5 separate regions of the Homo sapiens genome follow, and regions 2, 3, 4 and 5 are each linked to region 1. The links come from fine-mapping of genetic effects on plasma protein levels. A gene starts in region 1. Each other region holds a variant in brackets. All regions are shown on one strand. Distances are between the middles of the regions.

Region 1 (5,109 bases):
ACGGGAGCATTCTCTGGAATATGCACCTCCACTTGACCCTCTTTAAACACTGGCCTGTTGTCATTTACATCACTTACTGTGACCTGCAGTATGGCCGTACTGGATTTCTGTGGAGTGCCTCCATCCTCTACTTTGATTTTCATCACATAGGTATCTTTCTGTTCTCTATCCAAGTTTTGCTGAACAATCAGTTGTGGCCACTTCTCTCCCTCTGGAGTTTCCACGATATCCAGTCCAAAAACACTCTGCCCATTTAACAATTCATAATGCTGTACACCATTGAAGCCTGTGTCAGGATCTGTTGCTGATGGAATTGGAAAGCGGCTGTTGATCAAAGTGTTTTCTGGAATGGAAATATTGATGACAGGAGATGGAAACATGGGGGCATTATCATTGGTATCCTTGACAATTATTTTTATTTTGATCAGCCTGAAGAAATCATTGGGGAGGATCACCACCTCAAGTTCAAAGAAACACTCATTCTCCTCAGCATATGAGGCGCCAGCACAGAGTTTTTCTCTGTCTATTCTGTTGGAGGTTGTGAAAATTTCCCCAGTGCTGCTGGAAACTTTCACCAAAGGGGCATCCCCAGCTTTAGAAACCAGTCTGTAGACAAGGCTGGCGCTGGTCCCTGTGGCAGCATTGATGTGAGAAATGTTCAGATCCTTTGGTATGTTTCCTATGGGCACATTTTCAGGCAATTCCTCTCTAATAGTGTAAATAAGTTCTTGAGCTATTGCGGAATCCAGCCTTAAACAGGCAATCAGAGCAGCCAACAGGTAAAAATCCCTCAGGTCCATGATAATGTATTTATTTTCTTTTCCTGGATTTTAGGGTTTAAAGGTTTCCACTGAGGAATGATGCACAAATTGCAAGAGGAAGCGTGCATGGACTGGAGGATGCATTATATCTCATCACTTATTTGGAGACAGCCGCTGTCAACACAATTGTATAGACAATATTATTCTTCAGTAAATAAAAACACACCGTCACAAAATATCACCACACATTTTCCCCTGAACATTAGTAAACATGGCAGTTTGCTCTGCCACTGTTTGCAAGTTTACTCTGTGGAGAAAAACACTAAATATCTCCTGCTGGTTGCATTTGCCGGGAGAAAATAAAATTTTCTACTTTTGAATTAAGGACAGCTGCTATTTTTACCTATATTCACGCACGTTGTTTTTCAGAATACTGTTTAATTCAAAACATGCATTCTTGTTCTCCTCTTCCCCTCCCCCTGTCTCACCCTCCTCCTAGCCTCTAACCTACCTCCCTCAGTCTTTTCAGGTGCAAGTGAAAAACACTAAGTATTTAGCTACGGTTCCTGCTAATTGCTTTGTCACATGTCAAATGTGTTTTCTTCTCTGCCCCACTGAGTCACCTATCTTTTCTAAAAAGGCTATCTTTTTCTTTCCTCCCAGTTCTTCAACTGCCTTCTAATACAATCTTACTGGGAAACGAGCATCCGGACATGCCGCTGCAGCGGCATCAGAAGCAATAGTCACCGGCCTCTACACATCCTCATTGCCTAAAAGCACAACAACAAGACTTCAGATTTCTTGCCCACAGCTTGCTCTCCTTTCTCCATATTGACAAATTATCCTCATTAGGATTCATAAACACATTAAAACTTTTAAAAATGTATAATAATATAGGATTCATTTTCCTAGAGGTGGAAGAGAGTGCCGAGATATAAGTGAAACGCAGCTAACATTCCCATGTAACATCACAATATTTTCTACTGAACATAAAAGAGAAAAAAAATGCAATTTCTTAATCCTGATCTCTGGTTAGAATATTAGTAACATTTGCCACACATAAATACTGCAACCCAATCATGCAGGTAAAAAGGCTTCTGCTTAGATAACTGCAGTTTAAATGGGTGCAAGGCTCCAGGCAGCTACCTACTTGAGTAGGACTGGTCAGTTCTCAGGCTCTAATCTTATCTGCATTAGGCTGCACAGTAGCTGATGCCCGCGATTAGTTCCGGCAGAGTGATGCAGGTAGGGATGCAGATACAGCCGAGTAGGTGAGCTCTGCCCCAACCGTCTACCCAATTACAAGCATCTTTCGCCTACACTGAGGACACATCTAAACACAGAATTTACAATTGTGCATGCGAAACTTTACACTTACGTTAGTTGCCTCAACCTTTCCCCTTTCCCAGTATGCTGCAGTTAGGAATGATTTGTTCCAACACATAGAAAGCCATGCATCTGGTAGCACCAGTTTGGGGAGAAATCAGAAGCAGCAAAATGTTTCCTCCTTGTAAAATGTGTTGCTTCGGGCTGGCAAATTAGCAACTCCAGAGAACAAATTCACGGATTTGTCGTTAGTCATTCTCTCCACATTTCGTCTCTCTTACCCACTGGGTCTGGGTTCTTCTGGGCATTTAGCACACACAACACATAGTTGCACTTCTTCAGCTCAGGGATATTTTCCACAGCAGCATGCATACCATTTCCATCCGATGCCAATACTGCTTAAGTCTCTAACTTCTTGTAGGAAACGTCAGAGTTGCGGTGATGATGATTCTCTGACAGCTATCCGGGTGACAGTTGCCCGAAAAATTCCTAATCGGTTATCTCTTGCGTGCTTCAGAGACTCTGAGGCGCTCCTTTCCGTCTCGCGTGCTCTCCCTCTCTCCCTTCCCCTCTGCCCCTCTCTCCTTCTCCCTCTCCTCTCTCTGAACTGAATTTCTTGATATAACTCTCAATAAGCCCAGAGGGAGGGCGTGACTGCCCAGGCCCCGCCCCCGGGCTCTGATTGGCCTGCATCTTGCGGCGCGGGCGGCCGCAGCCCGGCGCGAGGGAGGGAGCGCGGAACAAGGCGCTGACTGTCTCCCAGCCTCCCCTCCTCCGCGCCCCCTCGGCAGCAGCGAAAACCCGGAAATCTGATCCTGGCCCCAGGAGAGCCGGGTTCCATGAGGTGCACTGAGCATGCTCTGCAGGGTCCGGCGTGGGAGGGACGCGCTGGCGCTCCCCAGGCCCGGGCGGAAGCGGCGCTCGCAGGCGCTGAAAGCGAGCGACCCTCTGAGCCCGGGTGGTCCGGCGGGCAAGGGCGGCGCGGGAGACCCGCAGGGCGCGGGCGCGGATCCGGGGAACCAGGGCCACCGCTGCGGGCGGATGGGGGTCACCGAGGCGGCTCGTCTCCAGGCGCACACTTCGCACATCTCTTTGCTAAGTGAAGGGGCCAAAATGCACAGATGGGGGAGTCTACCCAGGAACAGAGGCGCGAGACGTATAGCCACCCCTGGGTTGGGAGCACGAGCCAGCAGATCCCCGGAGCGCGTTAAACGGACAACATGCCCGGTGCTGCAAATAGAGGCTTTTGCTGGCAGGGACATTGGAAAGAAGGGCGGAGAGGGAGTACAGCGAAAGGTGGGGACCGCAGAATTTGGAATCTCTGCGGAGACCGGAAAGAAAATTAATCGGAGCACTTCCTACATGCAGAGCCACGGAAACTGCCTTGGAAAGAGAAAGTGGCAGCGTCTGGGTCCCCTCGGTCAGCCCGGGCCAGTCGGCTGCGCGTGCGAAGTCTCCTCTAGCGGAGCGGGACCGGCCGCGGCGGTGGATCGTGGCGGTCCCTGCACTTCTGCTCCAGCCGCGCCTGGAAACCTGAGCCCGGACTCGCGGCTGCTGCAAAACCCGCTTCCAGCCCACCTCACTGCGAACTTTGCTTCCGAGGGGCTGGAAGGAGTCCCAGGCAGCTGTTTCCCAAGCTGTGGAACACTTCCTTTCCCCTAGGCACTTTCTGCTGATTCCAACTTTCTTTCCTGTGATTTTCGTCTTTTCCCGTGCATTTCATTTCTCCGACTCCAGCTCTGTACTAAATCCTCACAAGTTTCTCGTTTTCATACGGGAACTGGATGGAATGACTCCCCAAAAAATACAGCTTTATTTCTCAAATACTGACCCCCAAAGCACTATCTAGTAATATATTTGATTGATCTTTCAAAGTCAGTAAACCACAAAGGTTTGTGTAATGGCTTGTACTTAACGCCTGATACCTGAGTAAAGTTTGAAGCATTAACATAGGAACAGTTCACTTGGAACAAAAATTTATTTTCTGAATGACCTATAAAGGTTGTCAGAGAAGGTCTTAGTACATGATTGAATAACTTGGTCTAACTTACAGGAAGAATAAAGGGCATTTATTTTAAACCTGTGTGTTCCCCATTCTATAATGGGCTGCCTAGGCATTAAAGGCTCTTGACATACTTAAGCTCTTGACTGAGGGCGTGTTGGAGATTACCCCTTGTTTTTGAGTACAATAGTTTTGTTTGCTTTTTTTCTTTTTTAAGTAACATTTGTTTTTAGACGTTTAAATGAAAAGTAAAAAAAAAAAAAAACACCAATCAAGCTTACTAAGCCATATATTGAATAAATAATGACATGATTTAACCAACTAATTTGACATCACAATTTTCCAACATGAAATTGTAAGCTCTTTTTAATTCAAACTTTTCTGAGTTAATATTCACAGTTCAACTGCAGTGTCTAAAAGCCCACTGTAAAATCCATTAATCCCTTATATGTAAAATATAAAATACTTTCCTTGCAGATAATAGACTGATATTTTTTAAATAGCAAAGCAACTTTTATTATAGTAATATTTTGTATGATTAGAATATATAAAATTCAAGAATAGAAAGGACTTACAAGTATCCCAAAGTGAAAAGAAAAATATTGCCTCACAGAATAATGTCAGTGAATGAAAGGATGATTCTTTTATCTTACCACAGTAAACGATCATTTTGCCATTCACAAAATCTACAATTAAAGCTAGTACATTGTTCCAATTGTCACCTATTTTATGCACTGCACTGTTTTTAAATAAATGAACCATCATTGTGATACATTTACAATAAACATAGCAGCACAGCCACTTTCCAGTTCATTTCATAAGCACCACAGTTATATCATATTCTTATTCTAATCATACCGTAGTCATTTCAAAGTCATGTTGTAGTCGCAACACATAGCTTAGCAATAATTATTTAACATCATTATTAAACGGAGTTGTTTCTCTTTGCTAAGGATAGCTTCACGTGTTGGCAGAACCCATTATTACCTCCTGCTCATAAATGAAATCTTAGTTTGAACA
Region 2 (5,109 bases), 1.5 Mb before region 1:
AATTGTAACTATTTCTTTTTAAAGTTTGCTAAAATTCACCTGTGAAACCATCTGGACCCTTGGATCTCTCTTTTTTGATAATTAATAATTAAATACATTTTAATAGGGATATGACTATTATCTGTTTCCTCTTGAGTATATTTTGACAGTTTAGGTATTTCCAAGAATTCGTTTATTCCTTAATAACAAAACGTTATCAAATGTCTGGGCATAGAGTTGTTAGTCTTGTACTTTTATAACATTTTTAATGTCTAAAGAATCCATATGATAACCCCTTTTCATTTCTTACTTTGGTTATGTCTTCTTTCTTTTTTCTCTGATAGCCTGGGATAAATATTTATCAGTTTTATTGAATTTCTCAAAGAATAAGTTTTTGTTTTTATTAATTTTCTCTATTATTTTCCTGTTATCTATTTTATTTATTTCTGCTCTAATTTTATTATATCATGTGTTTTTTGTTTAATTTTATTTTCTTTATCTGGTTCCCTAAGGTGGAAGTTTAGATAATCAATTTTAGATCTTTTCTAATAGATGAAATTAACAATATAGATTTTCATCCCAGCATTGTTTTTGCTCTTATAAAAGTTGATAAGTTTTACTTTTATTTTCATCAAATTCAAAATATTTTTAAAATTTTTCTTGAGACCTTCTCTTCGATCTCTGGGTTATTTAGCAGTGTGTTATTTAATATGCTAATACATATTTTTTCCACCTGTCTTAATTTATTAGTTTCCAATATAATTCCATTTTGGTTTGAGAATATATCTTATGTTTCCTATCCTTTTAAATATATTATGGCATGCTTTATGGATCAGATGAGGTTTATTTTATTGAATGTTTCATGTGAGCTTCAGAAGAATGTGTATTCTGCCACTGTAGGATAGAGTGTATTATAAAAGCTATTTAAATTGGTTAAAAATCTTGTTCAGGTCACCTACAGCCTTAGTAATTTTTGTTAGAGCCATATATATATATATGGGATTTTTATATTTTATGGGAAACTTAACCTCTTTATTGTACATAATACTCTTCTTCTTTTCTCATAGGCTTCCATGTTCTAAAGTTGTCTTTGTCAGAAATTAACACTGCTACTGGAACTTTCTTTTGAATTTTAGCATGTTACAACTTACAGCTTTTAACATCTCTGAGATCTTATATTAAGGAGGGTTTACTGAAGACAGTACATAATTGCGTTTGTATTTTATCCACTCTGAAAATCTGATTTCAATTGATACATTTAGAGATATAGTTAATGTTACTATGATATAATTAGATTGATATTTATCATGTTTGTATTAATAACTATTTTCTATTCCTGGCATCTGTTCTTTGTGTCTTTTTTTCTCTTCCTTTTATGCTTCTCTGGTTTAATTGAACATTTTACATGATTTCATTTTGTTCCCTCTCATCAATTGGACTACTTTTTAGGAATTTTTTTGGTTGTTGTCTAGAGTTTACAATGTATTTTTAAATTAACCTTAATCCACCTTCAAATAACCCTATGCCATTTTATCTGCAGTGGAGAAAATTTATAGCAATATATTCCCAATTCATTTCTCCCATTCTTTATGACATTGCTATTATTTATTTCATTTATTCCTGTGATATAATTACCTAATACATTATTATTATTATTGCTCTAAACAAATAATTATCTTTTAAATCATTTGAGTATAAGAAAAGTAAAATACATTGTTTCATCTTCATTTATTCTTTCCACAATGCTTTTTCTTTCTTTACATAGATATGTTTCCTACTTTAGATTTGTTTTTCTACCTGAAAAACTTGTTTTGACATTTCTAACAAGCCAGTTCTGCTGGCAATAAATTTCCTCCATATTTGTTTGTCTCAGACATCTATTTCTTCTGTACTTTTAAAGAATAATATTACTGGATATTGAATTCTAGATTGTTGGGTATTTTTCTTTCAACATGAAATATTTCAGTTCACTTTTTTTCTTGTGTGTATAGTTTCTGATAAGAAATACACTGTAATTTTTATCCTGTTTCTTCTGTGGGAAACCCCTCTCTCAGCTTTATACAATTTTCACTTTGTATTTGCTTTTTTATAGTTTGAATACTGTATGCCTGTTTTGGTTTTCTTTTTAAATTTATCATGCTTATTTTTTCTGAGCTTCCTGAAGTGTAGTTTGGTGTCTATAATTAATTTATAAAGTTATTTTTCATTAATATTTCAAATATTCCTTATGTTCTACGCCCTTTTGCTTCTCCTTTCAAACCCAATGACATTTACAGGATACTTGTTGATATTTTCTTGATGGCAAAGCTCACAAAAAAAAAATGTTTCCACCATATGGTGCAACTCCAGGAGTTTCTCATTCTCCTGCTAGTCCACATAGCTTACAATAATTTGTAAAAATTGCAATTTAAATGTTCCTACTAGTTTATGGCTCCAGCAGCTTCTGCTCCAGGTAGGAGCCTGATTATGACTGTGGATTCACCT[C/G]TCTCTAGATTTTGGTGTAGTTGTTTGCCCTGTGACTTCAAATCTCTGATGCGTCAAAGAAAAGCAATTGTTTTCTAGAAAGTCCAGCTCTTTCTTTTTGTAAGAATGGGAGTATTGACTTCCAAACTTTTTATAAGTCAGAGGTAAAACCAGAAGTCCCTGAGAATAGATTTCTGCTATCTATTAGAAAATCAGATCAAAAGAAAAATGTTGCAATAGAGTTATGAGTTGGAAAATAATTGTGGAGAAAGAAAGGGCCCAGCCACTGGTTAATTCTAAAACATAAAACAAATATGGTACATGTTCCTCTATAAGTGTCAGTTTCTGAATGTAACTCAGAAATCAGACAGGCCATAGGAATTGCATGTTGTTTTCAAAAATAGTTGGGGATTAATTGACTGAAAAAGTTCAACTCAGTTGACTTAGTCACCCTTAATTTCATGGACTACTGTTACATTGCAAGACACAAAGCTGAGACATGCTTCTAGCTTGTGTGTCCTCACTGCACTGTATCACTCGTTCTCAAGTGTGTGGGACTCCAACAGCACCAAGAAAATTCTCTGGCAGCTTTTTAAAAATGCACATTTTGGATTTTATCCCAGACATATTGAATCAGAAATTCTGGGAATAAGGCCCAGAAATCTGTTTATTAAAAAAAGCCCTTCAGGTCATTCTAATGCAGACTAAAGTTTGAGAACTGATTTCCTATATCATAGTATAGAACGATTTCAACTGTAGTATTCCCCTAGAAGGTCAACACACCACATACTGGGGATTGCTCTTTCCCCAGGTCCCTTGTTTACAGGAAAGCAGTAGAAGCAAGCTTGACTCTGCTGCAGGCCAAAACTATGTGGTCACTTAATATGACAGTGTTATTCCATTAGAAAGGCACCTTGATGAAGATTAGCCAATTAAAATGCCTCATTTGAAAATTTGGCTTTGGAATTTACTTGAATGAAGAAAATAAGTCAGCACCTGTAGATGAGGGCTATTTTCTTTTTTTTTTTCTTTTGTTGTGACAGAGTCTCACTCTGTTGCCCAGGCTGGAGAGCAGTAGCGGAATCTCGGTTCACTGCAAGCTCTGCCTCCCAGGTTCAAGTGATTCTCCTGCCTCAGCCTCCCAAGCAGCTGGGACTACAGGTGCGCCACCACACTCGGCTAATTTTTTGTATTTTTAATAGAGGCAGGGTTTCACCGTGTTAGCCAGGATGGTCTCGATCTCCTGCCGGCATGATCCACGATGAGGGCCATTTTCAAATGTAGTCTGGAAAGTATAAAAGCTAGCTTTCCCAAAGAGAGTAGAGCTGAAATGTAGAGATATTTCAAGGAACACTCAAGACAGATCTCTTTTTTTTTTAGTTTCTACTGTGCTCTATCAACAGTTCTCATCCAAACCAGAGGTAAAGCTGAACTCCTAACACTGTATTCTTCGTTAAACTTATACATTCTGGTAAGTAGATACAAATTTTGCTTAAGCTAGGTTGATTGGGATTCTTTGTAAAAGAAAAAGAGTTATAAACATCACAACAGGTAGAAGGTTTTCTCCTGATTATTAGGAAGCATCTTTCTTACCTATAATGCTTTCTGATATTTATTTAACAAAAGACCAAATAATTTACATCCAGCTTCAAATGAAGAGCTCAAACACTCTTAAGAGGAAGAGATTTTACATTACTATGTATTTGATCCAGTGAAAAGGCACATTCCAGAAAAGTTTTCATAGATGTGTGTAGTCTATCAAGTACCATTGACAGGTCTAAGACTGGACTGGTAGCATATTCACAGTTGTCTTAGTCCATTTTATGTTGTTGTAACAGAGTACCTGATGCTGGGTAATTTATTTTTTAAAAAGAGGTTTATTTGGCTCATGATTCTGGTAGCTGGAAGGCTCAAGGATAGGCAGCTGCATCTGGTGAGGGCCTCATGCTGTTTCAACTTACGGTGGAAGGTGGAAGGGAAGCTGGTATATGCAGAGACTATTTTGCAAGAGAGGAAGCAAGAGTGAGAAATCCAAGAAGCCAGATTTTTAACAACACATTCTCAAGGAAACTAATCCATTGCAGTAAGAGAAACAACTCATTAATTCCGGAGGGAGGTCATTAATTTATTTATGAGGGATCTACCCCCATGACCCAAATACTTCCCAGTAGGCCCCACTTTCCAACACTTCACATTGTGAATCAAATTTTAATGTGAGTTCTGGTGGGGACAAATCATGTCCAAACCACAGTAACAATTAAACATCGCTGGGCTGCAACAGCATCTGCAGACACAGTCACATAAACACTCGCATTCACTCACTCATTTCTGCTATTGCTCAAAATTCCAATGGGCAGTACATACACACACACACATACACCACCCCCACCCCCCAAAAAATAAACCTAATAACTGCTAGGATATCTGCCTTTGTCCAAGATGTCTCTCTATTTTCCAAACCAGACAACTGAATCGCAGATTTGACATGTGTGAGTACAAAATTTAGTATGAGGTGGAAAAGCTTTAATTGTTTATTGCAGTATATTGCAATATATTTTCTTGAGTAATACCTAATGTCCTGGAAATAAAGAATTCCAAACCAAAATAGAACTAAAGTTTTAAGAATTATCTTGCCATTATGAGCAAGTCAAGTAGATCCATTAATTT
Region 3 (5,109 bases), 91 kb before region 1:
CATTTCTCAGAACTTATCCTATTGTCAAGTGACGCATGACTGTGTAAGTGATAAGGTGGGGAAGAATCAACCCTTCACTGCAGTGCCTGTTTCTCTTCATGTGTGCCTGTGTTCCACATGACATTATAGTCTAGACCTGCAGGTGGTCCTTTGAGTTTGTTGCATCATATAATGCTAAAGTAAGAAAATTTGGGAGAGTTTATACTTTGAGAATTCAATATGCTGTATTAAATTGTACTCACTGGAAATATAGGCTAGCTAAACTCTATATAAATGGTGTAGTTCAGGCAGATATTATGGTCTAATCTCTTTGAAATGGAGACTGAAATTGCTGTCTGAATCAATCACTTGGATTTTAATTTTATATTTTACAAATGTAAATAATTTTATATTTTCCAAATTTTACAAATGTTAGTTAATAATAATAGTTATGTTATATATGAAATGGAGACTCAAATTCCAGTCTGAATCAATCACTTGGACATTAATTTGATAGTTTACAAAGGTTAGTTTATAAGAATAGTAATAGTAATAGACATCAAAATATCTGTGGCTCTAGTTTCTCTGTGTCTGCATTTTACACAACGTGTTTATGAATAAAAGTTTCTATAAAATGATTTATGAAAATTATCTACATTAGGTTTATCTCTTGTAGATAATTTTCATAAATCATTATGTAAATGATGAGTTAATGGGTGCAGCACACAAACATGGCACATGTATACATATGTAGCAAACCTGCACATTGTGCACATGTACCCTAGAACTTAAAGTATAATAATAAAAAAAAAGAAAATTATCTATATTTATTTATCCTGCAGTGTTGCTGTGTAGCAATGTGAGAAGCTGGGACTTCTAATCTAATCATTTTGTTCGGTAAATATTTTGTCATTCCTGTGAAGAGCCAGGGCTTGATACGGGTGAGCCAAGTCATATTCAGGTAGTAATATAAGGAAGATAACTGGGTGGTAAACTATTTAAATCATATCGTTTGTATGAAACCTCAAACTGTAAGCTCAACGGAATGTACCAGAGTATCTGTCACTATTTCCTCAGCCTGCTTTGTCAAGTGCAATTTCGTAGGTAAAAACTTTGGGGTGATCCTCGTGCCTCCATCATAAAGATGAAAATATAGCATGAATTATCTTTGGTGATAAAGAACACTTACCAAAATAGAGATGACTCAACTTCTACACACAGCAGAGCTGTGTTGTAATGGAAATTGGCTTTCAGCTTCTGAGACATGTAATTTTATAATACATTTTAGAACATTTAACCTCTCCACATTTTTTTCAGCTCTGTCTGCAATAGTGAGAGGTAGTGCTATTGTTACAGAGTCTGCTAAAGCTACTAATGTCCTATTTATATACAGAAATAAAAGGAAATTCTTCCTTCTCTGGTGGTCTCTTTCAGCTACTAAAAAAGTTGCTTGGCCTAAAAATGTCATCAGCCACAGGGATTATTTGATTTGCTTTGTCCATAATTGATTACTTGGCTTTTACCAAAAAAAGCACATCTCAAAAATGTCCAAAAAAGGAGAGGAAATATGTTCAATTCTATGTAAAAAATTTCTAAAAATTTTTGAAGCTGAAAGGAATGCCCATAAACAATCTGATTCCAGTCTTATTTTCAGTAGTCATGCATAAATCATGTTCTATGACACAGAGAGAAAGAGATTTTTTACCTAAAGTGGTATTTATAAGAATTTTTAGCAGACTGGGAAGAAGTCCACTTTAGCTAAATTAAAAAAAAATTCACCGACTTCTATATATTATGAAGTGGTTTTGAATTCTATCTTTACTATTTATTTGAAATTTTCTGAGCAAAGTACTCTGTCTCATTGATCCTCAATGTCCTCCTATACAAAATGGCAAAAAGAACACATCCCCATTTCATTGAAGTGTTGTGAGAACCAAACAGGCTGAAATATCTGGCCTGTTTAGAATATTATCTAGCACACCATAAGCACACAATACAGGGTGCCCATTATTCATGTGACTTATGTAAATTGCAGGAAATATTAAAAATATTATTATAACGGGTTTTGTTTGTTCATGCTTTATTTACAGTTTGTGCCACCTGTTGATCTGAACTGAAGCAGGAAGGAAAATAGGGTCTGGAGGCAGGGAACATAAGGCCCATTCACACTTCAGCTATGACAGGAAATATCTGCTCCAGAGGGCATAGGCCAAGTGAACGACTTTGTGACTTTACTTCATCCTCTCCATTTACATAGGGCGTACCCCGAGTCACCAATGGAATCCTCTAGGGGGTATTTAAACTCCCAAAAATTCTGTAATGGGGCCTTTTGAGCTCCTATGCTCAGGCCTGCGCCCGCATTGTGGAGGGTATTTTCATTTTTAGTAAATCCCTTTGTCCTTGCTTTGTTTGTGCATTTTGTCCAATTCTTTGTTCAAGACACCAAGAACCTGGATACCCTCCACTGTTAACAGAACTACTGAACTTATTGCTAATATGTTAATATATTATTGAAAATAGCCTATACATATGAGAGTAAGTAAATACTTTGATCAAGCCACACAAAATTATCCGAGGAAACAAAGTGGAACAGTTATGGTTTAAGGTAAAATAATGTAAAACAATATCAACAGTATGTATGTCTATGTGATTGAGAAAATGAATCTTGTATAGTAAGGATCCAGAGCAGTAAGATAATACCTGTATCAGGAAGGAAATGCCACTCCGTTCAATTCTCAAGGGCAAAACTCTAGTCAATCCTATCACATGTGCACCTTCTTCTGCCCTGACATCTGCCATGTCTTATTTTGCATAAGCCATGGTGAATTCTGTCAAATCACCCAAGTAATAACATAACCATCTGAAACATTAACTGAAGACTTTCTTCTGACATCGGCTGTCACACTATGTGTGAATCAAATTTGCTTCATTAAAATAATTTGGGTTTTGTTCTGACTGCTCAACATTGCCATTTGAATCTGTGAGCAGCCTTATTGACTCTTAACCGCTATTACCAAGTCTTAATCGCTCAGAGATTCAGCACAGTTGGATATTGCAATCAGAGCAAATTCCCCATTTGATTCCAGCACAGAAGTTACCAATGAAACTAACAGAGTGATAATACAAAATTATCCGACTTCATCTCTTTTTCTCTCAATTCTCTGTGACTAAAATGAAA[C/T]CATTTAGGAACTTACTTGTAATCTGCTATTTCTTGAGTTTGCAGTGGCTACTGAAATGCACTATTGTAAGATTTCGAACATATCTCAAATATACTACTATTATACTAAATATACTACTTTAAAATTAGAAGTGTCCTGATAATCAGCAGTTTTGCTTTTCAAAGTGCACGACTTGTACATCTGGTTACCCAATCCAGTTGAGAGGCAATCATAATAGGTTCAGGTTTCACCATAGCACGACATCTGCTCTGCAGTACCCAATCTGACTCTGCATATGAACCCTTGAAATAAAGTCATTATGTTTTCATTAAGTCCAAAGCAGTTCACATCAGCTGACATTTGGTCACAAATGATAAACAGTTAATAATTAAGCCAACTGAAATATTTTCAAGTACGCTTTTTTTGGTGCTTGCAATTATTTTTGTGACAGGATAGAATAGTTTTCTTTCTCTGAAATACAACTTCATAGGATAATTCCATCAGCTGCATTCCCTTCTGCTACTGAAAATGTGATTTTTTGATCACCCCCCCCCCCCCGCCCATTGTGTTATTTTTTAAAACAACACTATTCTTGGAGTTTAAGGAAGGGTTAAATCAGAAAAGAGCATGCTTGCTAGCATCAGCGGCTACTTATTTATGACAAGAACACTTTTAGTCAATTATTGTCTGAAATACTAAATGTACCTCCTGGGGTCCAGCATTTAGTCATACAAAGTGTCTGGCTCACATTGCCAGAACTGACCATTAATTATGATGGCTACAGGTAACAATCCATGCATAGCTTAGCTTTTTCTGGAAATTTTACAGCACAGAACCTGTTAGAGCTAAGGTAAGATAAGTTTGCCAGTGGAAAAATTAAGAGAAAAATATTGCAATATTTGAAAGACCCTTTAAAGTAACTAATTCAAGTGCTTTGATTTAGAAATCAGAAAACCCAAGAGAATGATAATGACAAGTACATACAAATGGTATTTAGCTGCTTCAAGTCTAGAAACCAGTCCTCTTTTTAGAGGTATGGAGCAGGTCAGGTGTTTTCAAACCTCAGGGCCCTTAATAATTACCTTCAGTGCTTTATAGAAAGTAATAATTCTAGGTGTCCACCCACAAAGATCCTGATTTAATTGATCTGGGATGGAACCTATACCTGGTATTTCTTTAAAAACCCCAGCTAATTCCAATGTGCCTCCTCCACTCTACTGATCTCTTTATTTGTACCTTCAGGAGAAATGCTTCTCTTTTTTTAGGATAAGAAACAGTTTGTTCTTATTTTGATAAAGGCATGCCCTGGCCACTATGAGCCATGTGCAGCACATTTCTCTCATCATCTTGGCTGTTAGAAAGTTTAAAGTCAATTATAAAGTGAACACTGTGTGTCTGCACAGTACTTCAGTGAATATATTCTTTCCTCGGTCAGTTTTATGATCCTAATTTTTCTTTCTTTTGCTTTTTCCCCCTCATTTTTTTCTGTAATATTTACTCTCTTGCTATTGTATGTATTATTGGAAGCTATCTTTTCAGCACAACTTGGGCCATCAAAAGAGATAAGGAACTAGACGCCTAAAAATGTAGAAAAGAAAATAAAAATATGTGATTAATGACAATTAGCATCCTAAAGAGTTTAGAATGGCTTTATCATTTTGTTTGGAATTCCAAAAAGCCTTACGATAGACAAAAATAAAACGAGAGAAGAGCACATATGCAATACAGTGGGCTAAGTGTTATGAGTAAGTGGAAAAAGTGAAATGAGTTGAAATGCAGACGGCATGAAAGATTAGTAGTGGGAAGAAGAAAGAAAGGGAAATGGGGCCGAGTGTGGTGGCTCATGCCTATAATCCCAGCATTTTGGGAGGCTGAAGCAGGAGGATCACTTGACCCCAGGAGTTCAAGACCAGCCTGGGCAATATAGTAAGATCTTCTCTCTCTCTCTCTCTCTTTATTTTATTATTATTAT
Region 4 (5,109 bases), 340 kb after region 1:
AAAATTTCTATGCATAAAAAACAAAGGAAACATCCTGTTTCTTTGAGAGTTTTATAACCTGCTATGACAATCAGGCAAAGCACACACCCACAAAGACACACACACAAAGGGAAAATTATAGATAAGTACCACTTATTAGTATATATCAGTATTAGTGAATCAGTAATATTAATAGTATAATAGCAATCAGTATTAATGTAATCAGTAAATAAACCTGTTATTAAAAAGGCTTTTTTACTAGCATGAATAAAATTAGGCTTTCTTAAATAATGAATGAATGAATGGGAGGAACACTTGTACAATTATTTGAATTAAGATGATGATATTCAAGCTTCTTGAGGAGAAATAGGGAATCTCTAAATCAATCTATAATATTTGATATTTAAGAAGTGTACAAGCAGCACAAAATTTTTGAAGACTTCTACATTTTTAAATAAATGTTTTGTTTTGAAATAATTTTAGTTTTATTTTGAAAAGTTGAAAGCGTACAGTTACGATAGAACTTGCAATCAGTTTCTCTTAATGTTAATGTAAAATGTTATAGATTAATATCATATATAATATATTACATATATAATATATATAGTGTGTGTATATATATATAATATTAACCATGGAACATTTGTCAAAACTAAGAAATTATCACAGCTTACTACTATCAACTAAACTGCACAGGTTATTAAGATTTAGCAAGCTTTCCACTAATGTTCTTTTATGGTTCAATACAATTCAAGATACCACACTTAGGCACGATCTCTCTGTATTCTCCCCTTGCCTGTCACAATTCTTCAGTCTTTACTTATATCTTGTGACATTAACAGTTTTGAAGAATATTGGTCAAATATTTTGCAGAATGTCTCCAAATGTTGTCTGTCTGCCATTTTTCTCATGATATCTCATGTTATCAATATAACTCATTACTGGTTATGCTAGCATTGATCCCTTGGTTTAGGTAGTATTTGCCAGATTTCTCCACTGTAAAGTTCGTATTTTTTTCATTTCATTCTGTGTGTGTGTGTGTGTGTGTGTGGTTTTTTTTTTTTTTTTTTGGAAACAAGCCATTAAATTCAATCTACACTCAGAGGGAGGGGAATTCAGCTTCACCTCCTAAAAGCGAAAGTATCTATATCTAACATTTGAATTTTTTTTGTAAGAGAGATTTTTCCCTTTTCTCCATTTATTTATTTATTTATTTATCTATTTATTTAATCGTTCTTACTATGGACTCATGTAAACACATTTTATATTTTGAGTTATAATCCAATACTACATTATTTAAATTGTTGGCCATTGAAAATTCTTTGTGTAATCTCTGTTTGCCTTCATCCTCCCTCCAGGGATGTACTTCCTTCTTTCCTGGCACTACAAGATGCTCCAGGGTCCTCTTGTATTTTCCTATCCCAGGCCTAGAGGCTGCTTTCTCCAAGGAGCCCTGGTTTCTTTTTTTGGAGAATGATTTCTAGAAATCAAGACCTGGACATTGGGTTCCTACATTTTCACCGTTCAAACACAAAATAAATAATGATAATAAAGTAAATAATAAAAAATTCTATTCTTCAAATTCGGAATAAGAATAATAATAAAGTTAAATTCCCAAGCCTCTGTTGCCACTAGGAATACCATGATGTGGAACTTAATTACATGAAAAAAATTTAGGACACATTAAGTCAATGTAGCTGTTAAGGGTGATAGCAGGGGTACGTGGGTCTGGTGGCAACAGTGGAAGCTACGGACATTTCAGTTGTGTGTGCAGTGTTTTTTGGTGAGTTGTTCATGGAAGGATCTAGTTTCTCCAGCTTTTCAATTACTTTGTAAATTGACTCCTAACCTGTTATAATCTCTATTCTTAAAATAGCTGCAGTATATTATTGTCTAAAATTAAGAGTGCTGACCTAGGCATTAAGAGTGGGACAGAAAATACCAAATACATGTCATCAATTCAGAGCATATGGCAAATCTTAGAGTGATCCAATCAATCTGTAAGACTCCGACTTTAAGGGAAAGCAAACAAAATCCAAAATAATTATCCAATATGCTCGACCAGTCATAATTAAAAAGACATTTCAATTTTATCATCCTTAAACATGGATGTTGAGCCATTGATGTAAATTCACCATGAAGAAACCACCTTGAAGGCGTATGCATATCAGAGAGTAAACTTACACATATGAAATGCGTTAGTACCTTCAGACCTTATGCAAGCTGTGATCTTTTTATAATGATTGAGTATTACACGAATTACCTAACATTATGACAATGTTTGTTAGATAGCATTATTTTGGAATGAGCAGCTTAAAGAACATGATCACATAATTCCCAAATGGTTTGATATTCAGTTTCCACTAAAGTCCTAAGATAATTCCAGAGCTATTTTCAATAGTAGAAAAGATTATTGCTAATATATGTATGATCTTCATCAAAACTCTTCGGTTTTTCTTTTACAAGTTTCCTGTTTGAGACTTCCCAACTCGGTAATCTGCCAGTGTTTGAACTTTACACAATTTACCAGGTCACGAAGCTGCAATTTCAGAGTTGTACTCTGAAACATGGAATGGTGCAAGGCCTTTCTCTTATATAGGACTGTATTTGAAAGTAATTTGAGTTATAAAGAAAATAATTTTCATCAGGCAATATTTTAGGGCCTGCCTCTATGTCCTCAGCATTGAGCTTCTTCCTTC[G/A]AAGAACTGATAAGCAGCTATTTGTATACCCTATTTTACTGTGTCATTTTTCTACCAATAATTTTACTGATGTAGCAGGTCCTTTTTTGATGGGATATATTTTCTCTGACAAACATGGGTGTTAAAAATATCAGATTTTTTTTTTCCTTATTGCTCTCTAGGTCCTACAAGCATGATAGCATTAGGATGATGGACCAGAATGATGTTCTGTGTGATGATGAGGGCATTGCGGACCATGTGGACCACAAGGAGGCATGAAATGCAAGGACTAACATGTCACTGAGGCGGTAGAGTAAAATCTGTTCTTACTTTACTGCAAGAAAATCAAATGGGGATTTTAACATTTACCATATAGAATGTGCTATCCCCATCAATAGCGGCATTTCAGATATCAGAGGCTATGTTGATATAGCCATATATGGCACTTTCCCATTTGCTGGTATAACAAACTTAGTGATGTAAAACAACACAAAGTTATCATATTATATTTCCATAGGTCTGAAGTTCAAAATTAGTGTCACTGGGCCAAAATCAACTGCCAGCAGGGCTATGTTGCTTTCTGAAAGCTCTAGAGGAGAATTCACTTCTTCGCCTTTTCTACCCTCTAGAGATGGAAAAGTTCATAGTCCCCTTTCACATTTACAAGGCCAGCAACATAGTGTTTCTCTAACCTTGCTTCTGTCTTTTCATCTCTTTTCCTTCCACAACTGGGAAAATTCTCTACTTTTAAGGATCTATGTTGTTATTGTGGGCCTACCTAGATAATCCAGGATGTCCCTCCCATACCAAGGTCATTAACTTAATTACATCTGCAAAGTTCTGTTTGCAATATAATCGAATACTTTCACAAATTCTGGGGATTGGAGCATGGAAAACTTTGAGAAACCATTATTTTGTCTACCATACCATTTTATCAGTTATATTTGTAACAAAAGTCAAATTTGCATCATCATTTTAGATGATTTTCTAAGAATATCCAACTTTTTTTTTTAAGGGAACTGGAGAATTAAGTTGGACTATCATAGAGATTATTGTACCTGTGACTTCCTAGCCCCTAATGACTGAAATATCCTTTTATATTTAACTCAGTAATGATGATGTAATAATGACACTAATAATGATAATGGTGATTTGGCTGGGATGGGTTCCATTGATATCCAGCTGTTTCTTTATGTTACAATATTCTGTATAGGCTAAGAAAGTATTGTTAGAAAATAAAATTTTTGTTATATTTTTAGGACCTGAAAAAATGATTGAAGATTATAAGGATCAAGAGTCAAAGGTTTTACTCTAAAATGCTCTACTCTAATTGGCATTCACAATAATATTATGAGTTCCTAGTAATTATAATTAGCTCGGAATCAAGCCAGTTTTCTCAAAATCTTGATTTTTTTTAATTTCCCACACATTTATCTGTGGGAAATGTGAGAAATGTTAGTAGACGCATATCATTTTATAAAAAATTCCTGAAAATAAATCTGTCTATCAAGGTAGACAGTAGGTAGACTCTGAGGCTGATAAATATTGACAATTATGTGATTTTTTTATGGTTGTGAATCAAGTTGAAACAGGACTATTTGCCAGTCCTGTATTGTTTTGATTTTACTAATCAAGTAGTTTAGCTTCCTTTCAACTTAATCCTTGGAAATTCATTGAGTTTCAGGAAGCTCTACATGTCATACCATTCACCATTCCCTGACCCTTCAATGCTGCAGATAGACTGAAGACTGTCATATCGCGATGATCACACCAACTTCATTTTTGAGAAAACTGAACTCATCTCAGTAAGGTTCCTCCAATCACAATTGATATCAGAAATCTTCATTGGATCATGGACTCTTCCACCATCATTTCAAGAACATCAAAGCAAAGTTTCAAAGATTCTTTTGCTCCCTTTATCAATATATGCCATATGCAAATTGTGTGTGTGTGTGAGAGAGAGAGAGAGAGAGAGAAATTTTCAGAGTCTGGAAGAGAACAAAGATTGGACTCAGTGTAAAGATAACACATAAAAAAAGAAATCAAATATTCTAATCTGAAGATTTGCTAGTCATTATTCTATATTACATTAAATTATGTATAATTTTCTAATATCACGTAGCATGAGCCAGACTTTGGTTAAGATTTACATTATCTAATTCAGCCAATGGAAATAACTATAGCTGACTTTCCAAATATGCTATTAAATACAGAATCATTTTGCATGTGTGTGCATAAATATGTACACATGTATAAGCATGCACATCTATAGCAATGAAATAAGCCCTCCAAAATTAATCTTCTTTAATCGAGAACTGTCAATATTGTGCCGGCAAAATTTCTCATTTTTAACATGTAAATTAGGGAAGTTTTATAAATCCTTTTAAAATGTGACCTTTTTTTCACTCCAAGGACCATATTGAATTATAATTCTAGTTAAAATTTAGTGGAA
Region 5 (5,109 bases), 1.1 Mb after region 1:
ATTCTTCCTTTCCTGAAAGATTTCTCTGTAGGATGCAATGCTGTTGGATAACATATTATGCACAGTAGCACTTTTTCAAAATTGGAGTCAATCATTTCATACTGTGCAAATGCTTTATCAATAAAATGTATATAATATTCTGAATTATGTCTTGTCACTTCAACAATGTTCACAGCATCTTCACCAGGAGTAGATTTCAATTCAAGAAACTACTTTCTTTGCTCATTGATTAGAAGTAACTTTTATCCATTCAAGTTTGATCATGAGATTACAGCAATTCAGTCACATCTTCAGGTTTCAATTCTAATTCTAGTTCTCTCACTATTTCCACTACCTCTGCAGTTATTTTCTTCACTTTAATTTTGAACCCCTAAAGTCATCCATGAGGATTGTAATCAACTTCTTCTAAACTCCTGTTAACATTTCTATGAATCACAAATATTCCTAATGTTATCTAGAATGGTGAATTATTTCCAAAAGTTTTTCAATTCACTTTGCTGAGATCTGTCAGAGGAATCACTGTCTATGGAAGGTATAGACTTACAAACTCTATTTCTTAAATATTAAGATGCAAAAGTCAAAATTACTTCTTGACCCATGGCCTACAGAATGGATGTTGTGTTGGCAGGCATGAAAACGACATTAATCTCCTTATACATCTGCATCAGAGCTCCTGGTAACCAGGTGCATTGTCAATGAACAGTAATATTTTGAAAGGAACATTTCTGTCTGAGCGGTAGAGCTCAACAGTGGGCTTAAAATTTCAGTAAACCATGCTGTAAACAGGTATGTTTTCATCTATGTTTTGTTGTACTATTTACAGAGCACAGGCAGAGTAGATTTAGCATGTTTAAGGGCCTGAAGATTTTCAGAATGGTAAAGGAGCATTGGTAATGTCACCAGTTTCATTAGCTCCAAACAAGAGAATTCGCCTGTCTTTGGAGATTTGAAATGAGGCAGTGACTTCCTTTTAGCCATGAATGTCCTAGATGCTGTTTGCTTCCAATAGAAGGCTGTTTTGTCTGTATTGAAAACCTGTTGATTAGTTTAGCCACCTTCATCAATTATCTTAACTAATTCTTCTGAATAATTTGCTGTAGTTTTTCCATAAGCACTTGCTGCTTAACGTTGCATTTTATGTTATGGAGATGGCTTGTTTCTTTAAGCCTCATGAAATAACCTCTTCTAGCTTCAAACTTGTGTTCTGTAGTTTCTTCACCTCCCTTGGCCTTCATGAAATTGAAGAGAGTTAGGTACTGTCTCTATATTAGGCTTTAGGTAAAGGGGATGTTGTGGATAGTTTGATCATCACATGGTTTTTGTTTTGAATTATGTTTATGTGGTGAATCACATTTACTGATTTGTGTATGTTGAATCACCCTTGCATCCCACTTGCTCATGATAAATTATCTTTTTTCATGTGCTACTGGATTTGGCTTGGTAGTATTTTGTTGAGAATTTTTGTGTCTATGTTCATCAGGGATATTAGCCTGTAGCATTCCTCTTTTGTTTTCTCCTTGGCAGATGTTAGTATCAGGATGATACTGGTTTTGTTGAATGATTTAAGGAGCAATCCCTTGATTTTTTGGAATAGTTTCAGCAAGATTGATACCAGCTCTTTATGCATCTGGTAGAATTTTGCTCTGAATTTGTCTAGTCCAGGGCTTTTTTTGGGGGTTGGTAAATGGTTATTATTGTTTCAATTTAGTAACTCATTATTGATCTTCTCAGGATTTCCGTTTCTTCTTGGTTCAATGTTAAGAGTGGCATATTCCCTGAAATGTCGTCATTTCTTTGGGTTTTCTAGTTTTTATGCCTAGAAATATTCATAGTAGTCTTTGAGGATTTTTTGTGTATTTCTGTGCTATCAGTTATAATTTTAACTTTGTCATTCCTAATTCTGCTTATTTAAATCTTCTCAGTATTTTCTTGGTTAATCTAACTAGCAGTATATCAATTTTGTTTATTCTTTCAATGAACAAACTTTTCATTCTGTTGATTTTTTGGAAGTTTTATTTTTGGTCTCAATTTTACTTTGTTCAGCTCTGAATTTGTATTTTCTTCTGCTACCTTTGGGTTTGGTTTGTTCTTGTTTTTCTA[G/A]TTCCTTTAGGTGCAATGTTAGGTTGTTAATTTGAGATATTTCTATATTTTTAATGTAGGCATTAATGCTACATTAACACTGCTTTTGCTGTGTTTCAGTAGTTTTGACATGTTCTATTTTTATTTGTTTCAAAAGCGTTTTTTATTTCTATCTTAATTTTGTCATTTACTCAAAAATCATTCAGTAGCAAGTTATTTAGTTTCCATATAGTTGAGGTTTTGAGAGTTCTTCTAGGTATTGATTTCTAATTTTATTCTGCTGTGGTCCAAGAATATGCTTGCTATGTTTGTGATTTTTTTAAATTTATTGAGACTTGCTCTATGACCAAGCATGTGATCTATTTTAGAGTGTTTCTTGTGCAGATGAGAAAAATGTATGTTCTGTGGTAATTGGGTGGAGTATTCTGTAGATGCCTATTAGATCCAACTGGTCAAGAGTCCAGTTAAATCCAGAGTTTGTTAGTTTTCTGCCTTGATGATGTGTCTAGAGACATCAGCAGAGTGTTGAAGTTCCTCACTATTATTGTATGGATGTGTATCTCTTTTCTTAGTTCTAATAGTATTTGTTTTAGAAATCTTTGTACTCCAATGTTGGTCATGTATATTTTTAAGTTGATTAAATCTTGTTCAATTCAAACCTTTATCATTGTAAATGCCCTTCTTTGTCTTCGTTTTTTCTTTTTACTGTTGTTGTTTTAAAGTCTGTTTTATCTAATACAGCAAATAGCTACAGCTGCTCTTTTTTGTTTTCCATTTGTATAATAGATCTTTATCCATCCCTTTCCTTTGAGCCTGTGGCTATCATTACACATGAGATGGGTCTTTCAAATGCAGCAGAAGGTCGGGCCATTTAAAATCAAACAAACAAACAAAACAAACAACAAAAAAAAAACTAATTCACCACTCTATGGCTTTAAGTAGAATATTTAGCCCATTTACATTCAATATTAATATTTATATGTGAGATCTTGTACCTTTCAGAGTGTTGTTAGTTGCTTTGTGATCTGAATTGTGTAATTGCTATATAGGATTTGTAAGCTTTGTATTTACGTGCTCTTATGTTCTTATGTGGTGTTATTCTATTGTTTCCATGTTTAGAACTGCTTTGAGCCCTTCTTGTAAGGCTGGTCCGGTGGTGACAAATTCTTTTAGCATTTGCTTGTCTGGGAAAGATTTTATTTCTCCTTTGCTTTTGAAATTTAGTTTGGCAGCATATGACATTTTTTGCTGGCAAGTTTTTTTCCTTAAAAGGGCTAAAAATAGATCCACAATCTGTTTTGGCTTGCAAAGTTTCTGCTGAGAAATATGCTGTTTGTCTGATGGTATTTCCTTTAAAGGCAATTTGGCTCTTTTCTCTAGCCTTTAAGAGATGTTTGTCTCACACACATCTTGGATAGTCTGATGATTATATGCCTTGAGGATGGTCATTTTATATAGTATCTTGCGGATGTTCTCTGAATTTCTTCTGTTGGGATGTTAACCTGTCTAGCAAGGTTAGGGATGTTTTACTGACTTATTTCCTCAAATATGTTTTCCAAATTGCTTACTATTTTTTCTTCTCATTCAGGAACACCAATAAACCATAGAGTTGGTCATTTTATATAATCCCATATTCCTCCAAGTCTTGTTTATTTTTTATTTTTTATTTTTTAATTTTTCTGATGGAGTTAATTTGTAAGAGTGGTCTTCAAGCTCTGAAATTCATTCTTTTTGGTCCAGCCTATTGTTAAAGCTTCCAGCTCTATTTTGAAAAAAATTTAAGGAAGTGTTCAATATCAGAATTTCTATTTTTTTGGTCAAATATAGCTATCTTGTCCTTCACATTCTGAATCACTTTTCTTGTTTCTTTATGTTAGATTTCAACTTTATGTTGGATCTCATTGAGTATCTTCACAATCCATATTTTGAATTTCCTGTCTGTCATTTCAGACTTTTCAGGTTAGTTAGGATACATTGCTATAAAACTAGTGTGATCATCTGGGGGTGTCAACATACTCTGGCTCTTTGTACTGCCAGAGTTCTTATGCTATTCCTTCTCATCTGAGGAAAATGTTGCTTCTTATTTTTGAATTTGCTATCATTTGGATGTAACTTTTATATATTTTAAAATTCTTTCTTCCTTTGAGGTTGTAACTGTGATATATGTTGCATATGATTATTTGTCTTCATGTTTGGATATGTTTAGTTGGCTAAGGATCTGTACATGTTCTGTGGGTTGTGGATAGCTTTTGTACAGTGTTTTCTCAGATGTTGCTTATTGCAGCAACATATTGGACATATGCACGGATATACAAACTCCTATAGGGCTGAATGTATAGAAGTCTCAAGAAGCTTATTCATGGAGTAGCACTAAGCTTTTCTGGCAGTAGGGTTTTTATTTGGGGGTACAGTTCAGGCTGCAGTACAGTTGATGGTGCTTTGGACTAAGAGCTGGCTCACCCTTAGGCTGATGATAAATGGAAGCACCATTGGGAGGGTGGCAGAAAAAGATAATTTTGGGTTGCTCTGAGCTCTCAAGGGAAGAAGCCAGGAGCTGGCTTCTTTTCCTGAGCCAGCAGAAATGCAATCTGCTTCCCTATTGTGTCCCATCGCAGGGCTTGTGACAACCAGTTTATAAAGAATTATTCCTTTATTTCCCAGCCACAGTGCAGGTGAGGGTAATAGATATTCTTCTTTTATGGCTACCACTAAAATGCGCATGGGACAGAGCCTCTTCCTCCAGTCCAGAGCAGGCAGCTCTGTGAGGTATCCATCCTCCATTGCAGGGATGCTGCTGCTTTGTGTAGAGAAGGGGAATTGGGCCACACCCTTCATATAAGCCCAAGCAGCATGGACTCACTTTCAGCAGGGGTGAAGCCACCACAAAAAGTATGAAAAATGCTTTCTCGAAGTGTAAATGTGCCAGCCCCCAGCAAGAAAAACCACTGTTGTATCTGTATCAGGGTATAGGGAGGAGGTGCAAGATGTCTACTCTCTCCATGTTTGTTCCTAGGAGTTGGTGCTTTTTCC

Direction of the effects. Alleles are on the strand shown, and positions count from the first base shown. The strength of an association depends on the size of the effect and on how common the allele is.
In carriers of allele C in region 2, the plasma level of the protein whose gene starts at base 2,696 in region 1 tends to be lower than with G alone (weak association).
For the plasma level of the protein whose gene starts at base 2,696 in region 1, T is the low allele of the variant in region 3 and C is the other (moderate association).
With allele G in place of A in region 4, the plasma level of the protein whose gene starts at base 2,696 in region 1 is lower (weak association).
For the plasma level of the protein whose gene starts at base 2,696 in region 1, G is the low allele of the variant in region 5 and A is the other (weak association).

Evidence for each region. PIP is the posterior inclusion probability: the model's chance that the variant is causal. Protein levels are from antibody-based Olink assays in UK Biobank. Linkage for the fine-mapping came from a reference panel and not from the study's own genotypes, which makes the PIPs less certain.
Region 2: its variant is fine-mapped to the plasma level of the PCDH9 protein (UK Biobank, PIP above 0.99).
Region 3: its variant is fine-mapped to the plasma level of the PCDH9 protein (UK Biobank, PIP above 0.99).
Region 4: its variant is fine-mapped to the plasma level of the PCDH9 protein (UK Biobank, PIP above 0.99).
Region 5: its variant is fine-mapped to the plasma level of the PCDH9 protein (UK Biobank, PIP above 0.99).

The regions. Positions count from the first base shown.
Region 1 is chr13:67,227,641-67,232,749 of GRCh38, forward strand. PCDH9 (protocadherin 9) reads right to left here and starts at 2,696. Exons shown (of 5, transcript NM_203487.3): 1 at 2,140-2,696; 2 at 1-935. The coding sequence starts at 800. RefSeq lists a silencer at 2,967-3,106.
Region 2 is chr13:65,741,982-65,747,090 of GRCh38, forward strand. No RefSeq gene overlaps it. Among named protein-coding and RNA genes, the nearest start is that of LINC01052, 120 kb to the right of the region's middle. The variant C/G (reference allele first, on the strand shown) is at 2,464.
Region 3 is chr13:67,136,344-67,141,452 of GRCh38, forward strand. The region is part of intron 2 of PCDH9 (protocadherin 9); the gene reads right to left. Among named protein-coding and RNA genes, the nearest start is that of PCDH9, 91 kb to the right of the region's middle. The variant C/T (reference allele first, on the strand shown) is at 3,158.
Region 4 is chr13:67,566,506-67,571,614 of GRCh38, forward strand. No RefSeq gene overlaps it. Among named protein-coding and RNA genes, the nearest start is that of LINC00364, 200 kb to the left of the region's middle. The variant G/A (reference allele first, on the strand shown) is at 2,679.
Region 5 is chr13:68,316,326-68,321,434 of GRCh38, forward strand. No RefSeq gene overlaps it. Among named protein-coding and RNA genes, the nearest start is that of LINC02342, 560 kb to the right of the region's middle. The variant G/A (reference allele first, on the strand shown) is at 2,101.